Linked DNA regions of Homo sapiens: all the other regions are linked to region 4. The links come from fine-mapping of genetic effects on gene expression. A gene starts in region 4. Each other region holds a variant in brackets. All regions are shown on one strand. Distances are between the middles of the regions.

Region 1 (5,200 bases), 62 kb before region 4:
GTAGGGCCTGGACCAGGCTCCAGGTAGAGTATTTCGGGCTTGGATGTTTTCAGGCACCAATAAGTCAAGCTTGCATTGATGATATTACAAAGTGGCAGAGGTGCCTCCTGAATGAAAAAGAAATGGAATCCTAACCCTGACTTCTGTCTTTGAGGGTCAAACATATAAAAACATGTCTGATGCCGGATTTCTGGGAAGGGCATTGGTTTCTGGAGGGGAGATTGATAATGGCAGAGATGGAAGTCTGGGCCAGTTTCACACCAGAGGCAGGGGGAAGTTGCAAGGAAAGATTGATTTAGGGTGTGAAATTGCCAACAGATGAAGTTGTTCCACCTGGCACCCTGGTGGTGGATGTATATGGAAGAAAACTTGCTATGAGCCGCAGTTCTGGAGCCCCTCCCTTTCTACTGTGGAACATATTGGCTCAGCACACGGAGGAGCAGAGCCCATGCTTCTTTATACATTCAGAGAGCATCAGAGCTCTCACATGTGGCTAATCACATGTAATCAAAGATAGTAGCTAAAGGCTGGGCGCAGTGACTCATGCCTGTAATCCCAGCACTTTGGGAGGCTGAGGTGGGCGGATCACTTGAGGTCAGAAGTTTGAGACCAGCCTGGCCAACATAGTGAAACCCTGTCTCTACCAAAAATATTTTTTTAAAAATTAGCTGGGTGTGGTGGTGTGCACCTGTAGTCCCAGCTACTTGGGAAGCTGAGGCAAGAGAATCGCTTGAACCCTGGAGGCAGAGGTTGCAGTGAGCCAAGATCGTGCCACTGTACTCCAGTCTGGGCGACAGAGTGAGACTCCATCTCAGGAAAAAAAAAAAAAAAAAAGATAGTAGCTAAAAAAGAGAGGATGAGGAATAATTTTGAGGAATAATTTAGGTAGAAAAGATGGTATGGAGAGAAAATGTAAAACCCAGATGGACCCATAAGTTACTAGTTACTGATATTGGGCATCAAATTTGTCTCTGACCTTTACAGTAAAGGAAAACATGATCAGTTAATTGCAAAAATCTTGTTTCCATGAGAAAAAGCATATCAATTACTCAGGACAAATGAAATATCCCCTGATGCTTAAATATGAATACGTTTGCCTATAATTTGCTCATTGATCATAAAACTTTTCTTTTGTTTCGCCTTCTGTCCATTTTCTCTATAATTGTTGTTTTGCTTGCTGGTGCAATGGTTGAAAGGCCTATAGATGCTGTAAGTGCTGAAGATCTGAGGATGAGGATCTGAGGATGAGGATGGGATGTACTGAAAGTGTTGGGTCATGTTGACAGAGAGCATGGGGTGATTAACGTCACAGTCATCCCAAACCATGGATTCTAAATCTAGGGACAGGTTTTGGCCTGGTTACAGCAACTTTGCAAAGGAGTATATTGCAGCTGAGATCACCCGGGGAACTATGAAACAAGCAATAAAACAAAAGATCTTCAAGGAACACTGAGAAGGGGACTTGTAGGGATCTGCTGTGCAGCGCAAATCCAACCTCAGGAGCTTACAGCAGAGAAATCACATAGACATTCAACGAGAACAACCAAAGTTACTAAAGTAATTGTGGAAAAAGGTTATATAAAGGGGAAACAATACAACAGTAACTCATGGGCACTACATCCTGCCTTTTGAAGGAATTTTATTTTTAGTTATTGTTAAGGATCCTGCAATGTTCTTTTTCCTTTAAAGGGCTCCTCCAAGCCAGGCGTGGTGGCTCACGCCTGTAATGCCAGCACTTTGGGAGGCCGAGGCAGGCGGATCACTTGAGGTCAGGAGTTCAAGACCAGCCTGGCCAACATGGTGAAACCCCGTCTCTACTAAAAATACAAAAATCAGGGGGACGTGGTGGCAGGAGCCTGTAATCCAAGCTACTCGGGAGGCTAAAGCAGTGAGGAGGCACAAGTTGCGGTGAGCCGAGATGGCGCTGAGAGGTGACAGCCTGCTGGCAGCCCTCACAGCCCTCGCTCACTCTCAGCACCTCCTCGGCCTTGGCGCCCACTTCGGCGGCACTCGAGGAGCCCTTCAGCCCACCGCTGCACTGTGGGAGCCCCTTCCTGGGCTAGCCGAGGCGGGAGCCGGCTCCCTTAGCTTGCAGGGAGGTGTGGAGGGAGAGGGGCGGGCGGGAACCGGGGCTGCGCGCGGTGCTTGCGGGCCAGCGTGAGTTCCGGGTGGGTGTGGGCTCGGTGGGCCCCGCACTCGGAGCGGCCTGCCAGCCCCGGGCAATGAGGGGCTCAGCACCCGGGCCAGCGGCTGCGGAGGGTGTGCTGGGTCCCCCAGCAGTGCTGGCCCAC[C/T]GGCGCTGTTCTCGATTTCTCGCCGGGCCTTAGCTGCCTCCCTGCGGGGCAGGGCTCGGGACCTGCAGCCTGCCATGCCTGAGCCTCTCCCCCACGCCCGTGAGCTCCTGTGCGGCCGAGCCTCCCCGACGAGCGGCGCCCCTGCTCCACGGCGCCCAGTCCCATCGACCACCCAAGGGCTGAGGAGTGCGCGCACACCGCACGGGACTGGCAGGTAGCTCCACCTGCGGCCCCGTGCGGGATCCACTGGGTGACGCCAGCTGGGCTCCTGAGTCTGGGCGGGACTTGGAGAACCTTTATGTCTAGCTAAGGGATTGTAAATACACCAATCGGCACTCTGTATCTAGCTACTCTTGTGGGGACTTGGAGAACCTTTGTGTCCACACTCTGTATCTAGCTAATCTAGTGGGGAGGTGGAGAACCTTTGTGTCTAGCTCAGGGATTGTAAACGCACCAATCAGCGCCCTGTCAAAACAGACCACTCGGCTCTCTGTAAAATGGACCAATCAGCAGGATGTGGGTGTGGCCAGATAAGAGAATAAAAGCAGGCTGCCTGCACCAGCAGTGGTAACCCGCTCGGGTACTTTTCTGTACGGGTGTCTTTCCACGCTGTGGAAGCTTTGTTCTTTTGCTTTTTGCAGTGAAGTTTGCTACTGCTCAGTCTTTGGGTCCACACTGCCTTTATGAGCTATAACACTCACTGTGAAGGTCTGCAGCTTCACTCCTGAAACCAGCAAGACCACGAACCTACTGGGAGGAACGAGCAACTCCAGACGGGCAGCCTTAAGAGCTGTAACACTCACTGCGAAGGTCCACAGCTTCACTCATGCGCCAGTGAGACCACAAACCCCACCAGAGGGAAGAAGCTCTGAACACATCCGAACATCAGAAGGAACAAATTCCAGACACGCTGCCTTTAAGAACTGTAACACTCACCGCGAGGATCCGCGGCTTCATTTTTGAAGTCAGTGAGACCAAGAACCCACCAATTCCGGACACAGCTCCACTGCAGTCCAGTCTTGAGTGTCTGAGGCAGACTCCGTTTAAAAAAAAAAAAAAAGGATCCTCCAATGTGGGATGGGGGTGGAGGAGCTTGGAGGTGGATTCATTCCTTTGGGTTCAGTTAGCCAGTCAACAAACATGAATTGAACTCTTTGTGTTAGTTAGGTAGTGAGATGGGAAAGATGAACTCATGGTCCAAGATGCCCTGTGTCTGAAATATACAAGAGGCTAGGGAGATGTGCAGCAAGGAAGTAATCGTACTGCTACGTGGTTGTGGAGCGCTTAAGAATTATTTTGAATGCTTATTTTCACAACAGCGAATCAGGTCTGCACTAGCATTCCTATTTCCCAGGCACGTTAGAGATGAAATCGGTTGTAAAAACCAATTGTCCTCCACCTTTCATTTCCCATCAGACCACAAGGGGGCGCCGTGCGAGGCGAACACAGCCTTAGATCTGCAAAATGCTGGTCGCTGCGTGAGGGGCTTCAAAACATCCTAGGTGGTGCCCAAAGACCTTGTTGCCTGAGCTGAATAGGTGCTAGCTATTTGCACTGTCAGCGCTCTAAAGGATTTCTGGGGGCCCCCTTTCAACGGGAAGCCACCTGGTACGTGTAAACACCCACAAGTTCACTCCCCTTTGCAAGGGGCAGAGGACCTAGTAACTTTTCTCTAGAGCGCTCTCCTCTGCATACAGGTCCCTACATGTCCCCTTCTCAGTGCTCTTTGCAGATCTTTTGTTTTCTTGCTTGTTGATTTTTCTTTTGCAAACAGGATTGGGGGACCCATTATTTATCCAAAACCTTCTTTTGTCAAATCGTAGGTCCTTTCCAGTGTAGACTGGATGTCTAGACAGAGAGGTAGAAATAATTGCCCAAGGGCAAGGACAGCCTTCACTAAGTTGTCCATTTACATCTTTACATCATTCTAAAAATACACCCACACCAGCCCTTTGTCTTGATATTTTAACATTGGGCAAGGCTGAAATAAGTTACTTCTCTGACCACTGTTTAAAATGTCTCATTCACAACCATTGTTCTTGGAGACTTCAACTTCTTTAATAGGAATTTAAGTCACAAAGGGCCCAGATGGTTCTGAAAAAAAAACCCGTTAGGCTGCCTGGGTCATAAAGAAGGCTCATAAACTGCGCTTGGATGATGACTGGGTGAGGGGCTGTGTGGGGGATAGACAATGTCTGGTGTCTGGTGGTCTCCTGACTGCCAGGCAGGCCAGAGAAAATTAGGGGTATGTTTTCATTTAACATCATTCCCTGCTGACTCTTGTCTCTCTGGAAAATTGACAGTTAGGAGACAAAGTAAGGTGCCCTTTTTGTTAACTCAGTTTTCTTAATTATAGTTGTTGGGAGATGACTTAAATCATGCTGTGAGGTATGGTGGTGGTTCCTGCCCCTCAATGCCCCCTCCCAGGCTGCAGAGGAATTTGCTTTAGAGATTGGTAATAGTTGAGTCTGAGATGAAGGTCAGTCAGTGTGCTGAAGCTTTTCAGTTGCCCTTGTAGAGGTTTCTCCCCCTGCAGGCTGGCCTCTACTCATTAAAACCTTTTCTTTCTTTCTTTGTTTCTTTCCTTCCTTCTTTCTTTTCCTTTTTCTTTCTTTCTTTCTTTCTTTTCTTTCTCTCTTTTTTTCTTTCTTTTCTTCTTTCCTTCGTTCGTTCGTTCTTTTTTTTTTTTTTTTTTTTTCTGAGTCTCACTCTGTTGCCCAGGCTGGAGTGCAGTGGTGCGATCTTGGCTCACTGCAACCTTCGTCTCCCAGGTTCAAGCGATCCTCCTGCCTCAGCCTCCTGAGTAGCTGGGACTACAAGCTCCCGCCACCATGCCTGGCTAATTTTTGTATTTTTAGTAGAGACAGATTTCACTATGTTAGCCAGGCTGGTCTTGAACTCCTGACCTC
Region 2 (5,200 bases), 120 kb after region 4:
TACCAAAACCTGGCAGAGACACAACAAGAAAAACAAAACAAAACAAACAAACAAAAATAACCACTTCAGGCCAATATCCTTGATGAACATTGATGCATAAGCCCTCAGCAAAATACTAGCAAACCTTTCCAGCAGCCATCAAAAAGCTAATCAACCACAATCAAGTAGGCTTTATCCCTGGGACTCAAGGCTTGTTCAACATGTGCAAATCAATAAATGTGATGGGTCAAATAGAACTAAAGACAAGACCCACGTGATCATCTCAATAGATGAAGAAAAAGCTTTCAATAAAATTCAACATCCCTTCATGTTAAAAACTCTCAACAAACTAGGTACTGAAGAAACATACCTCAAAATAATAAGAGCCATCTGTGACAAACTCACAGCCAGCACATCACTGAATGGGCAAAAGCTGGAAGCATTCCCCTTGAAAACTGGAGCAAGACAAGGATGCCCTCTCTCACCACTCCTATGCAACATAGTATTGGAAGCTCTGGCCAGGGCAATCAGGCAAGAGAAGAAATAAAGGGCATCCAAATAGGAAGAGAGGAAGTCTATCTCTGTTTGCAGATGACATGATCCTATAGCTAGAAAACCCCATAGTCTCTGCCCAAACACTCCTTGAGCTGATAAGCAACTTCATCAAAGTTTCAGGATACAAAATTGATGTACAAAAATTACGAGCATTCCTATACACCAACAACAGTCAAGCTGAGAGCAGAACACAATCCCATTAACAACTGCTACAAAGAGAATAAAATACCTAGGAAACAGCTAACCACGGAGGTGAAAGATCTCTGCAATGAGAACTACAAAACACTGCTCAAAGAAATCAGAGATGACACAAACAAATAGAAAAATATTCCATACTCATAGATAGAAAGAATCAACATCATTAAAATGGACATACTGCCCAAAGCAATTTACAGATTCAATGCTATTCCTATCAAACTACCAATGACATTCTTCACAGAATTAGAAAAAACTATTTAAAAATTAGTATGGAACCAAAAAAAGAGTCTGAATTGCCAAAGCAATCCTAAGTTAAAAGAACAAAGCGGGAGGTAACACACTACCCAACTTCAAACTATACTACAGGGCTACAGTAACCAAAACAGCATGGTACAAAAACAGACACGCAGGCCAATGGAACAGAATAGAGAGCTCAGAAATAAAGCTGTGCACCTACAATCATCTGATCTTTGATAAAGTTGACAAAAACAAGCAACAGGGAAAGGAGTCCTGTTCAATAATGGTGCTGGAATAACTGGCTAGGCATTTACAGAAGATTGAAACTGGATCCCTTCCTTATACTATATACAAAAATCAACTCAAGATGGACTGAAGAGTTAAATGTAAAACCCAAAACTATAAAAACCCTGAAAGACAACCTAGGCAATACCATTCTGGGCTTAGGAACTGGCAAAGATTTCATGACAAAGATGCCAAAAGCAATCTCAACAAAAGCAAAAATTGACAAATGGGATCTAATTAAACTAATGAGCTTCTGCACAGCAAAAGAAACTATCACCATAGGGAACAGACGACCTACAGAATGGGAGAAAATATTTGCAAACTATGCATCTTACATCTGTCTAATATCCAGAACCCATAAGAAACTTTAACAAATTTACAAGAAAAAACAACGCCATTAAAAATTTGGCAAAGGACATAAAAAGACACTTTTCAAAAGAAGACATACATGTGACCAACAAGCATATGAAAAAAGCTTAATGCCACTAATCATTAGAGAAAGGCACATCAAAACTACAATGAGATACTATCTCACACCAGTCAGAATGGCTATTAACAAAAAATAAAAAAATAACAGATGCTTGCAAGATTGTGGAGAAAAGGGAATGCTTATATACCATTGGTGGGAGTGTAAATTAGTTCAACCATTGTGGAAAGCAGCGTGGTGATTTCTCAAAGGCCTAAAGACAGACATACCCTTTGACCCAGCAATTCCATTACTGGGTATATACCCAAAGAAATAGAAATCATTCCATCATAAAGACACATGCACATGTTATGTTTATTGTAGCACTATTCACAATAGCCAAGACATGGAATCAACCACAATGGCCATCAATGATAGACTGGATAAAGAAAATGTGGTACATACACACCATGGAACGCTATGCAGCCATATTAAAGAATGAGAGCATGTTCTTTGCAGAAACATGGATGGAATTGGAAGCCATTATCCTCAGCATACTAATCGGGAACAGAAAACCAAACACTGCATGTTCTTACTTATAAGTGGGAGCTAAATAATAAGAACACATGGATAGATGTGGGGAAACAACACACACTGGGAACTAACTGAGGGTGGAGGGTGAGAGGAGGGAGAGGAGCAGAAAAAACAACTAATGGGTACTAGGTTTAGTACCTGGGTCACCAAATAATCTATACAAAATCCCTCATGACATGAGGTTACCTATGTAACAAACCTGTATATGTACCCCTGAACCTAAAATAAAAGTTAAAAAAATAATCCTTGGCCTATCTAGCTTAGAGAGGCTCTTAGTTTGAAAGAGACAATGGATGGTGTGCAAATTGAAGGTCACATTATCCTTCTAGGCTGAGATGTTCATAGTTCACAGTTCTTCAGGAGCTGGCCTGGGCAATACAGTTTGATCTAATACACAATAAACTAATTGACAATTGGCTGTTAATGGCCAAAGAGTGCAAGGGTTATACCATTTACATGGCATATAAAAAAGGTACATATATATCTCCAATCTTTTCATGTACATCCAGTCCTAAGGAGGAAATTATTACAGGTACAGGATTTCAGTCTGACCTCAAGAGGCAACATCTTATGGGAAAAGAGGCTTTTGAACACTTAAGCCGTGGTTTTGACAATTGTCCTTTTGGCCATGCTCAAGGGTATACATACAAAGTCTTGTATCATCTGGGCAGGGCCAAAGATGCTACCACAGGCCACCATCACCATTACATAACTCATTATTTTGCAACTCTTGCCTCATCCAAACTGTGTTTTTCTCTCAGTTCAGTTTCTCTTTCAAAGGACCTGATTACAAATTGCAAAGGCCAGGCAGACCTG[G/C]GCAACCCCAAACAGAAGTCTCATCATCTGCTTTGGCAACTTCCTCCGTGACTAACTGTGGGAGCAGAAATACAGACTCACAGACTCTCAGAGTGGACAGGATCTTAGAGGTCGGCGAGCTTGGTCTTCCCTCAATGTCACTGGTACATCAACACAATGATTGGCTTATTGAGCCCCTACTTAGTGCCAGAGGTCATGGTGGGTGCTGGAGGGGATATGACTAAGACACTGAACAAGGCCCTGCCGCTGACCTCACAGTGGGGAGACAGGTGAGTGAGCAAGTGGTCGGGATGCCCTGATACACATAGCGTAGGTAAACACTCGGGGGCTCATGTCAGGGAGTGTCAACCAGGGTCGGGGGGTGGTCAGAAAGGCGTCTTGACAGAGGTGCAGTCTTTCCACACCTCCTTGTCTTTCTTGACATATAATCGACAAACACAAATTTATACATGGTAATGTGTACAACTTGTTTTATATATACATTGTGGACGCCACAATGATCAAGCGAATCAGCATTTCTATCACCTCACAGAGTTGCCATTTTCTTTTGAGAAGTGGATTCTTAAAGGGAGAAAAGAAGTGAGCTGGCAAGAGATTCACAGGTGGAAGGGAGATGTTCCAGGAAGAGTTTACAGCATGTGCGAGGGACATGAGCCAGAAAGGAAGAGAGATGGGAAGAAGGAAGGGAGAGACAGAGAGGGCCAAGTGACCAGGACCAGGACCAGGAAAGAAAGCTGAGCTCTTTGCATATTTAGGGAACTGCCAGGAGTCCCCAGGCTGGAATGTGAAGTTCAAGGCCTGGAGCAGAGGGAGCTGAGACTGGAACAGTAGGATGGACCAGTTCAAGAGGGGCTTCATGGAGCTGGGGCTTCATCCTGATGGGGTTCAGGACATATTGCCCCTGAAAATAGAAAATTGGCATTTGAGAAAACAGCAAAAGCAGAAAGGCCACTCTCACCTTCCCTTGTTCTACCCTTCTCTCTGAGGCCGGTCATCAGTCCCAGGAAGGATTTCCTGACTTTCCCCTGAAGTAGGACATTGGACCCTGGTGTGAGTGATGCCCGCATACTCAGAGGAAAGGAACATCCTTTTTCTGAAGACACAAGGACACAGAGGAGAATCTGAGCCAACAGATGTGGTGACATTCCCTCCAGGTTATCACCCGCTTTGCTCGGTCATGCCTCTCCATGACTGTCCACTCTTCATCCAATCGAGCATAGCAAATACACAGGTTTCCCTGTTTCTCTGGTTCTTCATTTCCCCTCAAAGGCTTCTGTGTCATGTAAAACTTATATTCTATGCGTTTGTATGTTCTTCTCTTGTTCATCTGTCCTTCATTATAGGGGCCTCAGCCATGAATCTAGCAGTGGGTGAAGACATCTTGCCAGCCCTACAATTCCAAAAGCAACAAAGGACTCTTGAGGGTTGTGAGCAACACAGTCATTGGGGAACACCAGATGGCTACTGAGGTTTCTCCAGTGGTCCACAGGTGCCAGCTTCTTTCACTGTAAGGTGGGTCAAGTGGTTCACCCGTGTGTGTTCAAGTGGGGCCCAGAGCTGCCTCCACAGGCAGGGTCCCTTTCCAGTCTCCCTGCTCTTTCATGGGCCACGTTCCCAACCTCTGAAGACTTTCTGAGCCTACCCTACCCCAAGTTTCCTTTTCTTCAGGGTTAACATGTCTAATCCCTTCTCCATTTCTCTAGAAAAGTGAGTTGTCTACACCACAGGCATTCCTTCAGCCTCTGGGTGTAGATGGAGCATACAGATCTTGTCCTCATGGGCAGTGTAGATGTTTACAGACACTGAGCCCACTTGATCTGCTGTTTCATGATCCAACTCAGACATTTGCTCTTTGGTTAACTCATTCACCCACAGCCGCTCGGTGGCCGGCCTTTTTCTCTTCTGTTTTGCCCATTCCCCTGAGAACATACACTTTTTATATTGCTTTGGTTAAGCCTCAAGCATAATCATTTGGTTTCTTTATACAGCTTCTTTCTCTGAAGCTAGGACTACCCTAGTTTAGATACCCTAATGTCCACCAGCAACATGGCATCATGGTAAGGAATGGTCCTGCCAGTCAGAAAGACCAGAGTTTAAATTTTGGCTGAATTATGTAATACTTGTGTGACT
Region 3 (5,200 bases), 26 kb before region 4:
GTTAGACATTTTCCAGAAATTTACTACTTTTATAATTTCACAAGTAAATACTCTCAAAGAAAGTTACTTCCTTATATGAGAGCCACAACTTGAAAGCTGGGTAACTTGTGTTTTGGGAGGTGCCCCCACCTGGTTAAATGAAGTTACCCATTTGAAGGAATTTGAAGTCATTTGGAAAGACAGTCTTAGGCCAGGCGTGGTGGCTCACGCCTATAATCCCAGCACTTTGGGAGGCCGAGGTGGGCAGATCACGAGGTCAGGAGTTTGAGACCAGCCTTGCCAACGTAGTGAAACTTTGTCTCTACTAAAAATACAAAAATTAGCCAGGCATGGTAGTGCGCACCCATAGTCCCAGCTACTCGGGAGGCTAAGGCAGGAGAATCACTTGAACCCAGGAGGCGGAGGTTGTGGTGAGCCGAGATTGTGCCACTGCACTCCAGCCTGGTCAACAGAGGGAGGGTCCGTCTCAAAAAAAAAAAAAAAAAAGAAAGAAAGAAAGAAAAGAAAAGGAAAGAAAAGACTTTTCTGTGTGGCAGAGAAAGCCAACATAGCAACATTCTCAGTGGTACTGGAGTCTAGACATCACCCTACTGACCTGGTCAGGACTCCTGGATCAGCCCACTCTGAAACTGCCCACTACAGCTAGGTGGGGGGAACTTCCAAGCTCCTTAATTCAGATTCCCTCAGTATTGAGGCTACTCCCTGGACCTGAGGTGGGAGCCCTGGGCAGCAACTTTAATTCTTCCTGGCCAACAGGGTATGATTTAGCGCCCAAATTGCTAATGAGGTGTCCAAATATGCCTTCTTCTTTAAGGGCTTGGCAATATCATCCTTCAGCCGGGATGTAAAAATCATTAGCATTGGAGTCAGACAGACGTGGGCTCAAATATCAATCCTGCCTCTCACTGGAGGCAGCAAGTTAACTTCAGCAAGTGAATTTCCTTCTCAGACCTCAGTTCCCTCCTCTGAACAGCAAATGCTGTGAGGTGCACCTCACGAGGCTGTGGAGAGGATCAGGTGGTAGTACCTCTATGGGATCCCTAACATGGAGCCAAGGCTCAAGGCGCCTTGGGGTCACCCCCACTTTAGTTCTAACACTATCTTGCAAAATGAGACGGAAGCATGGGGTAATGACACCAGTGAAGGCTGCACATTCAATTGGTAGTGACTTTGAAAACAAAAACTATTCCAATAAATAACTGGTTTAAGTGTGCCATGCTTTAAGAAAACCAAGTATTACAAAAATTAATCAAATAAATCAGAGGCGATTGTGGCATTGCTAAAGGCTTCTTTGCTTCAAAAAACTGATATACTGTAGGATCCCTTTAAAGAGAGGACTCCTTGGCACTCTTCAAATGTTACTGGAGTTACATCCTACTTTTTTTTTTTTTTGAGACAGAGTTTTGCTCTTGTTGCCCAGGCTGGAGTGCAATGGCGTGATCTCAGCTCACTGCAACCTCTGCCTCCCAGGTACAAGCGATTCTCCTGTCTCAGCCTCCGAAGTAACTCGGATTAACAGGCATGCACCACCATGCCTGGCTAATTTTTTTGTATTTAGTGGAGACGGGGTTTCATGGTATCAGTCAGACTGGTTGCAAACTCCTGACCTCAGGTGATCTACCCACTTCGGCCTTCCAAAGTGCTGGAATTACAGGCATGCGCCACTGCGCCCGACCTACATCCGACTTTTGAGGAACACACATTGTCCTATGTGAGTGGCACTGACACACTTTAAACAGGAGCAGCACATCTCTCTAGAAGTTATCTTGACAACGTTTAAGGCACAGCTAGTTAGAATGAAGTGCTTTTGATTGCTGACAGTTTCTAGTTCTGCATTTTGCACAATGTAGTCAAGCAAGTCTTTTTTTAAAGATTTGTACAACCAGGCCGGGCGTGATGGCTCATGTCTGTAATCCCAGCACTTTGGGAGGCCGAGGTGGGCAGATCACCTGAGATCAGGAGTTTGAGACCAGCCTGACCAATATGATGAAACCCCGTCTCTACTAAAAATACAAAAATTAGCCGGGCAAGGTGGTGGGCACCTGTAATCCCAGCTACTTGGGAGGCGGAGACAGGAGAATCGCTTGAACCTGGGAGGCGGAGGTTGCAGTGAGCCAAGATTGCGCCATTGCATTCCAGCCTGGACAACAAGAGTGAAACTCCATCTCAAAAATAAAAAAAAAGATGTGTTCAACGAATATTGTTTATCATGAAATTAAATAAATAAATTTATTCTGTTTTCTCTCTCTCACAGTGTTCTCCTACTTAGCCAGACATCATATTAAAGCAGTCTCTTACCTCTTCACTCTGATAAGCACAGTCATTTAGCATGAAATCATTGAAAAAGGAGGGTTAACCTCTGTTTGCTTTGGTGTGGGTTTATAAGAAGTTACTAATGCACTCTTAGAAATATGCATTATCTATAAAATTTAGAACGAAGTGCAACTGAGTTTGAAGGCTTTGGCACTGGCCAAACAAAAAGGACCTTTGTTAATTTTTAAGGAGGGGTGTTAGAGTTTGCTCATTGCTTTGGCTCGGGTGACTTGTCTGAGAAAAGATAACTTCTCATTTTCAAAGTGAGCTCATAAAGTCCTGCCCTTCAAGAGCTGAATGACCTCCAGTTTTGTGTAATATTAAAATGTATCTTGAAACTTCAGGGGTGACATTTTAGATGGCAAGTACAGTTCTCTGCATAGCCCCAAAACCCATGTATCGAGGCAAACAATTCATATACATTAGGATTATCTTTATGTAGAAATGTACAATTCTGGAACATAGTTGTACTTTATTGATTTATAAATGAGGAAACCGAAGTACCCTCTGCCCTAGGAGTATTTTTTGGGTGTGTACGTATTTTGTGTGTGTATAGGCAAGGAACAGGAGAAAGTGAGGTGAAGTCAGAATTTAACTTTTCTGGAAGCTTTCATTTCCTCTAAACCTATTTTTTGCTTGTTGTTAGACAAGTCATGCTGCTAATATATAGCACTTAGTTGGCTAGTATCTGAGTGTCGCTCTGGGCAACCAGATTGCACAATGCCTCAAATTCCAATAAGGGAAGTCCTTGTTCCTTAGCCAACAGCTTATGGGTGTCTGTGTGTGTGTATGTGTATGTGTATGTACGTGTATGTGTGTAATTTGTGATGACTCAGTGTCTAGGAAGGTACAAACATTGTAGCTAATCTATTTCTGTTTCTTACATTAC[C/T]TTTCAGGAATGGGCCTGGAAGACCTGGCTAAAACCTTTGAATCATTTCCTGCCAACATTTGGCCGTGACCCATTTTGGAAGGTAGAAAATGGTCCTTAAAGATGATGTCATAGGATCTTGGTAAATCTGAATATTACTTCAGTTTTCCAAGTGCCACCTCAAAGCAATACTTACCCCAGTCCAGACCATCACACACATTGCAATGGCAGACCATTCCATTTTTAAGAAGCCCTTGAGATCAATGGAATATACAACACATTCTGGGACCATAGGGAAGGGAGAAACTGCTGGGTTGCAGAGAGGAAGCTTCATGAGGGGGATGAACCTTGGAGTGGGTTTTAAAGAATGGATAGGAGTTCACAGGGAAAATAGAAGGGAAAGGCATTCTAGGTAAATCATAACATATGCAAAGGAAGTTCTGCCCCTCAGTAGAAAAAGTTAGGCCAGGCGCAGTGGCTCATGCCTATTATCCCAGCACTTTGGGAACCTGAAGCGGGCATATCACCTGAGGCCAGGAGTTCAAGACCAGCCTGGCCAACATGGCAAAACCCCGTCTCTACTAAAAGCACAAAAATTAGCCAGGCTTGGTAGCGCATGCCTATAGTCCCAGCTACTGGGCAGGCTGAGGAATGAGAATCGCTTGAACCCAGGAGCCAGAAGTTGCAGTGAGCCGAGATGGCACCACCGCACTTCAGCATGGGTGACAGAGCGAGACCCTGACTCAAAAAAAAAAAAAAAAAGCCTAGTTTTCCTCCTTAGGTGACCACAGAGGAGTTAACTAATCTTGTCTAAATTGGGCAAAATGCACAGAAGTTAAACTCTCAGATAAGCCCTTCTTTACATCACTCATGCTTTGCATCAAGGTGCTCATTGATTGTATATGAATAGTTACCCTTACAGGACACAGGCAGTGACATTCTGGAAGGTCCTTCAGCGAGGGAAATGACTGTATATAATCTGACACCTCTCATACCAGATGGTAATGAGCTGAACCATGGGATTCGAGCAGCAGCGTGTGAGGGTGGATGTGTGATAAGATCAGAACCACCTTTCAGTTAATTAAAGGTTAACTCTCATTTAACACTTTGATTCTTGCTTCCACCTGTTCATTGGTTCACTGGGCTGCTATCTGTGGGCTGATGCTCTACCAAGTGCTCAGCCTACAGCAGTCAGGAGGCAGCCATGGCCCCTGTGCTGATGGAGCTTGTAATTTAGCCCCAAACTGATCTTCAGAAAGAGGTACAACAAATAGTTCCAGCAGTTAGAATAAAAGCGACACATCCAAAGAAAAATCAGAGAAGCACATATAATTTCCCATGCAGATCAACTGTGAAATGGATGAACTCAGGTAGCAATTTCACTGATCTTTGAAGCAGAGAAATGAGACTATTTTAGATCTTTTTAGGCTTTTGGTTTTGAACATTTGTAGATTTCATTTACCCCAAACCATAATCCCATATTAAGTAGAATTTTTGCTGTTAAAAATTGAAAACTTTTTTTCTTCCTTTATAATTCAGTTTTTCAAATTATTCGACTATGAGTAACTTATTTAATTTAGGATTGCCTGTGGGTTCTTGGCAACCATGATGCATATTTAGAAATCTTTGCAAAGTGAGAAAAATATAACCTACATACTGTTTTCTAATATGATGAAATAGTTATAAGCCCTAAATAAAACAATTAATGGGGCAGACATGATATGGTTTCCTAGACATTGACCTAAATGTTTATTAATTTCTATTTTGCAGTTTTTGTGTTTCATATTTTGGAGTCAAAAGATCTTTTATTCAGCTCCCAAACATTCTTATAGGCACTGGGCATATTGCCTACAACGCCTAATGGATAAAACGGCCCTGTGCACAAAACACAGAGTGAAAAAGACCAATGAAATTAAGTAAAGGTGTCAGCGTATATGGTTTTCAGATAACTTGGAGAGTTTTTTTCCACCCTTTGCAGAATTCTTGCAGAACCAAAGAGAAAGCCACACACTCAAAAAA
Region 4 (5,000 bases):
TAGAGAGAAAGAAAACTTTATAAAAAAGGAAAGTGGATTTCTTCAGCTATTGGTTGATTTAATAGTCATCATAGGGCATAAGTCATGTGTTCGGTCGGAGAAGTTAGCTTTTTTGCTGGTGAAGGTGCCTACAAGGTAATAAAAATCATGTATTTACATCATTTGGCAAGGTGTTCAACACCAGTAAGGCCCAGTGGAGAAGCAGGTTTCTCCATGAATGCCAATCGCAGTTTACGCTGTCAGTCACTTTATCAGTTGCCTTTAGATTTTCTTTCCATAAAGAGTAAAGCTAACCACGATGAGATCATTGAATAAAAGTGACTTGAGACTTTGTCGCTTTCGTCACTTTCTAGATTATAGCACTCAATGTTAATTTCAGCCATTTATACTTTCCAATAATAGACATATGAACATACTTTCTCTTTTTTCTGCAAGCCAGTTCTTATTCAACAACAGGGAAAGGAGGAGCAAAAAAGTCACTCCAGGCTGAGTAATATCTGGTCCTATCATTGTTCTAAATAAGGAAATATGGGGTGAGCCACTTTAAGGAAGATAACTTTCCTGCCAAGTAGAGGGATTTGTTTCTGGTTGCATCCTAAAGTCAAATATTAATAGTCTTCAGGATGACCCTTTCCTCTGATCTTCCCTACTGATGAAGATAATAGAAAGCTGATGAAACAGAAATAGCTGATACCTGTGTCTTCAGACAGTGGTAACGTAGGCATTACTATAAAGACTTTTGACATTTAGACTTAAAGCTTTTGAATAAGATTCATAGTTTTTGAACAAAAGCTTTATTACTGAGGCTAGTCAGTGGCTATCAGTTAGACCAAGTATTTACAACCTTACATCAAAAAAGGATGGACCAGAAAAATTTAGAAAAAAAGCGAAGTAGCTTCCAGCTAGTGTACAGTTAATATAAATTGTCAATCCACAAGCCTAGCACCCTTGCCCAAATCCATCTTAATAATAACACTTTTGTTTAAAATAGCATAAAATAAAATAGTAGCACTAGCACTCATGTCTATTCATCATTCAAGAAAAATTCATGTCCAATTCATTGCAGTCTGCTTTCTTTGTGTCCCCTGGAAGCTGCTTGCCTCCTTAGATGGGAGTGACTTAAAAGAAAAAGGGGAGGGGGGAATATACGGAGCAAGTCAAAAATCCTTTTGGCAAGAAAAATCCACAAACAATGGTGTAAAATGCATTGGAAAATAATGCTGCTGAAGTACTATGACTATGACACTCTGTAAGCTTTCAGGCACAATGAGCCAGCCTGAGCCTTCGCACTCTCACCCCATTCAAACTCCAATAAAAATGTTTTCAAGAAATGGCTCATACTTATTTATTCCTACATCCAATATAACATAAGGATGTCAAAATTTTCCATCCTCAGCTGTGTAATCTGGGCTTTTAATTTCTCCCACCAAAAGTGCATATGGCATACTCCTTCCGAGACCAAACGATTAAAGCAAAGTCTGGAAAACTTTGCACTAAGAGCCAGTCTGAGACAGACTATGCAGTCCTCATTCCTCTCATTACAGTTCCCCAGGGCAGTGGAAGCCAGGCCTGGGGAAGCCAAGGAGACTTGAGCCAATGCCTGCCGCGATTCAAGTCAGACACCCTCTGATCTCCAGTGGCTGCTGTGAAGCGGCTCCAAGTCTTAACTTCTCACCGAGGTATTTCCCCGGCAACTTTCAGAGCAGATGGACTCGGGTGTACTGTGAACCCCTGGAGTGGGTCTCAAAGACCGGGTCTCTGCTTGCTTGTCTGCTTGCATGTCAACCTCAGTGACCGAGACTCATCTTAGAACTCTCCGGGACACACAAGGGACTGACAGTAAGGAACACGCATACACAAGCACACACCCGCAGGCACAGCTTTCAGCTTGCAAGGTAACCTGTAAAAGGCACTCTCTTACCTTATACTTCATTTCGGCAGCGGTGGGTTGAGCCGTTTTCCTACACTAGTTAAGACAGCATTAAGCACTGCGGTGCCCGCCCCTCCATTGAGTGCAGCGCTAGATGAAAGCGAGAAGGTCCCGGGCAGAGCCGCTTGTCAGTCGCAGCGCCTCCCTCAAGTCTCTGAGCTCACTGTTGTGACTGAGGCAGGCTGATCGCGGACCTCATTTGCATGCCGCCCCGCCATTGGCTAGTGGGACAAGGTAATGCTCAGGCCCTGCCCACCCCTAATTCTGAAAAACTGACAAAGAACTTGTAATGTGATCGCTTCTTTTTGCTTTATCAGACGGTGGAAAATAAAACAGAAAGTGGGGAACCGTCCTGAACCTTACTCTGTCCTCCCGCCCCCGCCAAAAAAGAAGACAGAAAGAGAAAGAACAGGAAAAGGAGATACATTCTTTTTAAGATTAACCCAAATTTTAAAGAAACTGAATTCACAAAAGCAGTCTGACAGTCGCGCTTCCTGTGACCTAGCAACTCCTTCATAAACCCATTTCGTTTCAAAGCCATTCACCTCACAATCTCTACATGAAACGAACTCCGGGAACAAAAGGTTTTCTGTCTCCGGGCCCCTTTTTACTAACCACCCCTGCTGATACCTCTCTCTCTCTCTGTCCCTTTTTCTTTCCCCCTCCTCCCGCCTACTTTTTGTGTGTGTGTGACTGTTTGCTTTTTTTGTTCTTTTCAACGTTCAAAGTACTTTGCGATGTCAGTCTGCAAGGAGCTGGAAGACAATTCTCCCTTAGTGAAAAGGAACCCTCTAGCACACGCACCAGCGTTTTCCTGGACAGCTTCTCACCAGGGCCTCAGAGTTGCGGGTCACACATATTGAGCGACCTTCAGTGGCTTTGCTGAGGATAAAGGTTAGATGTGACCTCTCGGATGGGGTTGGCCAGTGCACGCCCTATACATCATCACCGTCCACTGAGTTCTGTGTTCTTTGACGGCTGGCATTTCTAGCTCCAGCTTTGAACACTGCAGTGTTTTTCCTTCTGACCTCTGTCCTGAGGATGACCCATTAACCCACCAACACTTATTATCCAGGAGAACGAAAATGCCCACTGTTTGATGAGCCTGGTTAAAAAGACCAGTCTCTCTCCAGCGAAGCACAGAACATAATTTCTATAAAGGTTCCATTTTAGGATTTCTATAGAGAAAGAGAATCACCCAGAAAACAGAAATGGTCACCTTCTGCAACTCTTCTCACGGACAGAGCAGTGAGGCGAAAAATTCCTTTTTCCCGGGCAAGACTGAGACTCGGTGAATCCAGACAATAGCTGTCCCTGAGTGGGATGCACTCCAACCAGACTACATGACTTGGATGGAAAAATCAGCCCTTATTTTTTTTTTTCCTGACCAAGTTGGATCAGAATCTGATTCCCTTCGCGTCTAACACACAAATTCCCAATGGATGAAAACTCTACTTTTATGATCTAAGCAAAAGGAATGAGAGAACAGCTGTCCTACAAAAGTGGTTTCCAGATACAGGGTTGGCAGGTTAGTTTGCAGTTCAGTGTGGCACTGATTCCAGGGACATGACCCCCCAGGCCATCCTAATGAGGTTGACATACCTGTTCCAGCCTGTATTAGGCCTTGCTTCTCCTCATTTGTCCTTAGAGCAAAAATAAGCCTGAGTGATTGTGCAAGGCCTTTCTGAACACAAATTAAGCACGCAGCATATTGCATTGTAACGATCTCCTTAAGAATCCTGCAGACTGACCGGAGAGTCGTTAGTTTGCAGGAAATTGTTTTTGGTGTCTACCTGGATAAAGGAGGACAATGATTCAAAGCCCTTCCCATCTGTAAGATGAGTCTTGCGGCCTCCAAGAGATCTAGATAACATTCCTTTGGCTTCCTAAGTGGTCAAGCTGAATCCTTTTTCTGTTTTGTTTGATGAATATCATTGAGTAAGTGAGTGCTGTCCCATCCTATTTTAATGTTTTCAAACAGTTTCCTAAAGTTTGTGCTGGGGTTTTTTTGTAATTTCATTCTCTAGCTAGTGGCCCTCCTGCTTTCCTGTTTCTGTCCTGTAAGGTAAGTAAGACACATGTAATCTACCCGAAGTTCATTTCAAGAAGGCTTGGGTCAGTATATAGTTAGCTGCCTAAAGGAAAGCACAAGGGTGTTGGAATCAGGTAAACCTGTGCTGGAACCTCAAAACATTTTTAATTTTTTTTTTTTTTTTTTTTGAGACAAAGTTTCATTCTTGTTGCCCAGGCTGGAGTGCAGTGGTGCAATATCGGCTCACTGCAATCCCCGCATCTCTGGTTCAAGCAATTCCCTCAGCCTCCCGAGTAGCTGGGATTACATGTGTCTGCCACCATACCTGGCTAATTTTTTGTATTTTTAGTAGAGACGGGGTTTCACCAGATTGGCCAGGCTGGTCTCGAACTCCTGACCTCAGGTGATCTACCTGCTTCAGTCTCCCAAAGTGCTGGGATTACAGGCGTGGGCCACTGTGCCTGGCCAGTTGAACTTCTTAATTTTGATGTCCTTCAGTATGAAATAGAGAAAATAATAATACCTGCTAGCCTCATAATGAGGATTAAATAAGATAATGTGGATAGAATTTAATAGTACTTGTTACATTGTAAGACCTTAAATGGTTGCTTGTTCTTATTACTGTTGTTATTAGTTATTATTTTAATTAATATCAGATTTATGATATTTTGTTAATATTTTATGACATTATTGCTATATTCTATAGATTATTATTTAATTATTGTATTAATTATAACTAGTATTAATATTAGACTACTGTTGATAAGTGTGGTAGGCATTCAGAAGAAGTTGGAGGAACCCCTTCTCTGTGTGCCATTCTTTCATAAGGCAGCTTTCTCACTGAACTGTTATCACTAGAGCACCTAGCATGTGCCAGGTACCTTTCTAGGAGGGGAGGATACAGCAGTAGCCCAGACAAAGTTCCCATCTTCATGGAGCTTACAGTCTAGTGAGAGTTGAGGAAAATAATTAAATGAATGTATAATATGATTTGCAGTGATAAATGCTATGAAGAAAAATTAAGCAGGGAAAATTGCT

Evidence for each region. PIP is the estimated chance that this variant, and not a neighbour inherited with it, causes the effect.
Region 1: its variant is fine-mapped to the expression of NEDD9 in whole blood (INTERVAL, PIP above 0.99).
Region 2: its variant is fine-mapped to the expression of NEDD9 in whole blood (TOPMed, PIP above 0.99).
Region 3: its variant is fine-mapped to the expression of NEDD9 in whole blood (TOPMed, PIP 0.98).

Annotation. Positions count from the first base shown.
Region 1 is chr6:11,168,968-11,174,167 of GRCh38, forward strand. No RefSeq gene overlaps it. Among named protein-coding and RNA genes, the nearest start is that of ERVFRD-1, 60 kb to the left of the region's middle. RefSeq lists an enhancer at 3,589-3,883. The variant C/T (reference allele first, on the strand shown) is at 2,292.
Region 2 is chr6:11,347,442-11,352,641 of GRCh38, forward strand. It overlaps a transcript of NEDD9 not described here. Among named protein-coding and RNA genes, the nearest start is that of NEDD9, 120 kb to the left of the region's middle. The variant G/C (reference allele first, on the strand shown) is at 3,071.
Region 3 is chr6:11,204,252-11,209,451 of GRCh38, forward strand. All of the region lies in intron 2 of NEDD9 (neural precursor cell expressed, developmentally down-regulated 9), which reads right to left. Among named protein-coding and RNA genes, the nearest start is that of NEDD9, 26 kb to the right of the region's middle. The variant C/T (reference allele first, on the strand shown) is at 3,203.
Region 4 is chr6:11,230,583-11,235,582 of GRCh38, forward strand. It overlaps NEDD9 (neural precursor cell expressed, developmentally down-regulated 9), which reads right to left and starts at 2,086. Exons shown (of 7, transcript NM_006403.4): 1 at 1,922-2,086. The coding sequence starts at 1,933. It overlaps LOC124901256 (a long non-coding RNA gene), which reads right to left and starts at 128. Exons shown (of 2, transcript XR_007059449.1): 1 at 1-128. RefSeq lists silencers at 1,594-1,643, 2,124-2,173.